Regions from separate parts of the Homo sapiens genome. Here region 2 is linked to region 1. A link means that fine-mapping ties the variant in region 1 to the expression of a gene that starts in the linked region. Tissue or cell type: whole blood. Region 1 holds a variant in brackets; the other region holds the start of a gene. All regions are shown on one strand. Distances are between the middles of the regions.

Region 1 (2,658 bases):
CCCAGTGACGGTGTGTAACACACAAAGACAGAGGCAGTACCACCAGAACCCCAAGGACCATCCACAAGGAAAAAGGAGAGAAGAAAGCCCATGGAGACTAAGCAGCAGCAGCAGCAAGGAAACTACAGTGTGCCAGACGGATCGCACCTAGAAACGCTGCCAGCACCCAAGACTTGGAGTAAAGAGAAAGCACAAGTGTCCCCAGCAAAGGGATGGTCAGAGGAAGAAGCCCAAGCCTCAGTCAAAGAGGGCAGTTATGCGAGAACCTCTGGGGGCCTTCAGATGGTGCCATGGACCAAAGGCACAAGCAGAGGCCCAGACGCGGGAGGGCCCTGTGGGAGGCAGAGTCACTGGGAAACCAGTGTCCAGTGCACCTCAAAGCACAGAATGGTTGAGCTCAGGGGAGGCCTAGACTGCGGCAATCCAGGCGGCAGTGGGTGCAGCCTTGGCCTGGGACAGAGGGTTGGGCTCGGGGTGTGCTGTCAGGAGGCAAGTAGGAATGACCACACCCAAACAGTGAGCCAAAGGCAGAATGAACTCTGGTCTTCTGGCCCCTAGCTTAATAATGTCCTGTCATGTTGCATGGTAGTAGTCAGGCCGTGCGTCCCCAGCCAAAAAATGAATCGGCATTCTTGGAAAAGAACTGAGTTATGACAGGTGCTGCACGCACCCCGTGGGCACTTCGGCCGGCAGATGCCTTCTCCTCCTGTTCAGATCCCTGGAATAGTTCCAAGCAACTGCAGTCAGTGCCATCAGAGGCGCCTCAAACTGTACCGAAGACCCTAGCAAGGCGAGTTGGAGGAAACATGAGTCAAAACCAACACAGCTGCCAGCGGCTTGGCTCCCTGTCTGAACGTTTTCACTTCTCAGAAACTTTCATGCAATTAATTTATAAGAGAAGAAAAAAAAAAGAAGCCAAGGCATGTGACTGCTGCAGACCCATGGCACAGCAGAGCCCAGCATGCCAGGTGCCGTCACACAGGGTCCTGTTTGGGGGCAGCGCAGCACAGTGGCTGAGGGGGGCTCTGTGCCTCCAGGGTTCCAATCCCAGCTCTGCTGCCTGCCTGCCATGGACTCTGGGGATATTACTCCACCTCACTGCACTTGGCTTTTCCTGAGGAAAGCTGGGATGATGACAGTGCTGCCTCACGGAACAGCTACAGAGTGGAACTAGACGATCTGTGGCAAGTGCTGGGGAGTGAGCCTGGAACACCAGAAGGACTCAAATCTCAGTTGCCAGTCCTACAATTGTGATGATCATTTAAAAGCCAGGATCCAGAACAAAACCAGTGCCACCGCGCAGCAGCCAGCCTGCACCTCATGAACACTCATGCATCTGTGTGGCCCCGGTCAGTTCCTCTACTCACCTGGGGCGTGCCC[AG/A]GGCCAGCTGCACCAGCCCTGCAGACCCCATGGGGAAGCAAGGGGTCTGTCTCAGCCTTCACGCCCAGGCCTCCAGGACACAGCTAGGGCAGGCTGGCTCCATCAACAGTGTGATACATGGACAAGGGCACACAAGGGAGGGGCAAGGCACAACGCCTCTGAAAATGGGAGTGGTTAGAGTCTGCATGACATCGGAGGATAAGAATCAGAGACACCAAAAACCACTGAGAAAACCAACAGAGAAAGGTTCCCGGGTAGAGGCATTGGAGGAGACGCCTCTCCCACCAACGGGGCAGGAGCGGGAGGTGCCACGGAGGAGGCTAGCTGTGTAGGCTGAGGGACAGGGAACTGGAGGGTTTCCATCTGAACACTTCTCCTTCCAGTAGTCCAAAGCGAGACCACAGGCTAATAGAAAATGTGGTGGGACCAGGGAGAGATTTTAGGAATATGAAGGAGGGCTGAAATAACCATTGCCTAGAATATAAAAAAGAAGCTAACCCCAAGGAAATACAGAAGCCTTAATTAGAAAAATTTCCATATTATTAAATATGCATTAAGAGTCAGTGTGTGTAAAGGTTAAGAAAATAGACTCTGGATCCACCAGCCTGGGTTACATCCCAATTCCATTACTGAATACCTGTGTGACCTTGGGCCAGTTGCTTAGCCTCTCTGAACCTCAGCTTCCTCATCTGTAAATTAAGAGTAATAATAGTCCCTGCCTCAGAAAGTTTCCATCTTTGGTTAGATTAAATACAAAGAGATTAGAATAGTGTCTAGCAAACAATAAATGCAACAAGAGTTTCCAGGAATAATAATAATTATTATTTTTAATATCAGGCAACCTTAAGAAGAAGATAAATTTCTCCTTCAATTTTTATTCTTTAGCAAGTTGAAGTCCTTATCTCTCTGCCTGTCTGAATGTGTATCTTACTAGGAAGGCCTAATTCATACTCTATGTTCTCTGTGAAGTTTCCCTTGACCAACACTGGCCTTCCTCTTCTTAATTCCTGGAATACTAATCATCTACACCTCCCATGTGCCATTTCGCACACACACACCACCTACAAATCTTGCTAGTTTTATAGTTCAATGCCTTGCTTTCGTAGCTGGATTGAGAGTGGTGATCTTACTGTGTCTCTGCCCACACTCACAAGGTCTATTGCAATGTCAATACAACATGGGCATCTGATGCAGCTCACACAGATTGATAGATACCAACCACAAAGACATTTGATAACCATAACTCACCTGATGATTAAATTGTCCTCACCAAGGGT
Region 2 (2,685 bases), 200 kb after region 1:
TCCAGTTTGTATTACTGTTTATCACAGAATTACCAGGAAATCCTAGAAATAATTTCTTCATATAACCAAATCAGTCATACACATTGTCTTCGAAACAATGTTTTTCCAAGATCGATGAGGTCTTTTGAGTGTATATAGATGTGAAAGAAACAAGTCCTTTACTACTATTCTAACACCTGGTATTACACGGTTTAACATGGAAGCCAAGTTTCCCCATGATCTTATTCTTCGTTTCTTCGGGGCTTTATTCTATGCAATGGAGAGTAACTGAAAATTAAGAGCAACCAGACTTCTTAGCTGAAAACCACATTTGATATTTTCTGCCCACATTTGCCTGTTACTCAATATTACACCCATATGATCATTACAAGACCTGAATACACTCTGGACATGGCAAAAGTATATCGGCCCCTTCGCATGCCTGCAACAATACTTTTAAAAACCTAATAAAGTGATTTGCAAATACCCAGAAGTGGGATCACCAGTGAGATACGGGCTAAGTTCAGAAAGGTCCCTGAAACCACCTTTACAGATGTATAAGTAATGCGAGAAATCTAACATGACTGACTCCATCTTGCTTCTAACCTCACGGGCTAAGTTTTCACCGTGTTGTCGTTTTCTTATTCTAGCACAGAGGCTAGGATAACTGGGAGAGGGATTTCGTGTAAACTTCAAGACAAGGGAAACTGACCCCACCCCTTCCTGGGAACCAACGAAGCCGCCCCGAGTTTCAGAAGCTCTTGTGATTTCATCCCCAGCCGGTCAACTGTTTCAGTTCCCCAGCCCCCCGAAGCCAAAATGCCCTTTAAAACCCTCGCCCCCGAATTCTCGGGGAGACAGGTCTGAGACCCTGTTCTGGTTTGGCCAGCCCTGCGCTTATTAACTTCTTTTTTTGCTGCAACAGCGGTTCTCACTGGTTCTTTCCGGGCAGCGAGCGAGAAGAATCCGTTGAGCCGGGGCCGGCGCCCGCGGGGCAACTGCACCGCGGGGGAGCCCAGTCGCCCCGCTCACCCGTGAGGGCCCTTTCTCCTGGAAAAGCCGCTCCGCCCTGCTGACCCCCACGGCACCGCGCGCCCAGACCCCAAGGCGGCGAGGGACTTGCGGGTTTGCGGCGAGTGGTCCAGACCGCGGGGCGGAAGTGAGGGGCGCGGCCGCGCGTCCGGGGCGCGTCTACCCCTCGCTCCCACTCGGCTCCGCGCCGCGACCACGCGCCGCCCTCCTCGTTCTAGAGGCAGCCCGCCAGGGCGGGGACCACTCACCCGCTTCCCCGGCGACCCTAGTCCACTCCTTGGCCTGGCAACCGGCGGCTTCCGCGGGGCGGGCCCGGCGGGTCGTCTCTCGGGTTGCGGGTGAAGGAAGCCGCCTGGGTCTGGCGGGAGGCACTGTTCTTGGAGTAGCCGGGCCTACGAAGAGCACGTTTTAAAGCTGTTGTTCCACGTTGCGGTGGAACAGTGCTGTTAACATTGAGGGAAATTGTCCCCGACTAACTGAGTTCTGTCTGCAGGTTAAGTGAAAGCCTATGTAGATAAATTTCACGGGCACAGCACTCAGTGCTAGCTAGAACTTACTAGCTATGTGACCTTGGGCAATTGTGGAAGGCGGGATAATGCTTCCGCCTCAGGATGTCCACATCCTACTCCCTGGAACCTGTGCGTTTGTTCTCTTGCTTGGCAGAGGGGGTTAAGATTGCAGATGGAATTAAGGTTGCTTATCAGCGGACTTTAAAATAAGGTGACGATCTTGGAGTGTGTGCTTGGGTAATTACAAAGTAATTACAAGGGTTCTCTAAAGTGGAAGGGGCCCAAAAAGAAGGTCAGTATGAGAAAGCTATTTGAAGGTGGAGGAAGGGGCAACAGCCAAGGAATGCAGCTGGCCTCAAGAAGCTGGAAGAGGAGCAGGCACAGTGTCTCATGTTTGCAATCCCAGTGCTTTGGAAGGCAGAGGCAGGAGAGGAACACTTTAGCCCAGGAGTTCGAGATCAGCCTGGGCAACATAGTGAGACACTCGTCTCTACGAAAAATTAACTAGACATAGCGACGGGCACTGTGGTCCCAGCTGCTCGGGGGATTGGGGCAGGAGGATCACTAGAGCTGGAGAGGGCTCATGATCCCACCACTGCAGTCCAGCTTTGGTGACAGAGCAAGAACCTGTCTCCAAAAAAAAAAAAAAATATATATATATATATATATATATATATAAAGGAGGAGGTGGGAGGTGGAAAAGGAGGAGAAGCTAGAAAAGGAGGGAAAAACAAAAAACAAAAACCAAATTGTTCCCCAGAGCTTCCAGAAGTAACAGTCCAGCTGACCCCTTGATTTTTTTGTTTTTTGAAACAGGGTCTTGCTATGTTGCCAAGACTGGTTTTGAGCTCCCGGGCTCAAGCGATCCGCCCACCTCAGCCTCCTGAGTGGCTGGGACTACAGGAAAACCACCATGCACACTGACGCCTTGATTTTAACCCAGTGAGCTGTATTTCTGAACTTCAGAACTGTAAGGTAATAAATTCGTGTCGTTTTAGCCACTTAGGTTGTCACAGTTTGTTACAGAAGCCTTAGGAAACTAATACAGCAGAGTAACTAAATCCCTCTGTATAAAAGTATAGAACCTACCTCATAGGATTACTGTGAACAACATCTGGTTACCCTTTACTTGTAAGCGCTGAACGTGTTCATTATAACGTGTCAA

Evidence for each region. PIP is the estimated chance that this variant, and not a neighbour inherited with it, causes the effect.
Region 2: it holds the start of NEK3, and the variant in region 1 is fine-mapped to the expression of NEK3 in whole blood (TOPMed, PIP above 0.99).

What each region holds. Positions count from the first base shown.
Region 1 is chr13:51,954,887-51,957,544 of GRCh38, forward strand. ATP7B (ATPase copper transporting beta) reads right to left here. Exons shown (of 21, transcript NM_000053.4): 9 at 2,630-2,658. Among named protein-coding and RNA genes, the nearest start is that of ATP7B, 55 kb to the right of the region's middle. The variant AG/A (reference allele first, on the strand shown) is at 1,381.
Region 2 is chr13:52,158,284-52,160,968 of GRCh38, forward strand. NEK3 (NIMA related kinase 3) reads right to left here and starts at 1,314. Exons shown (of 16, transcript NM_002498.3): 1 at 1,260-1,314. RefSeq lists silencers at 1,001-1,110, 1,191-1,250.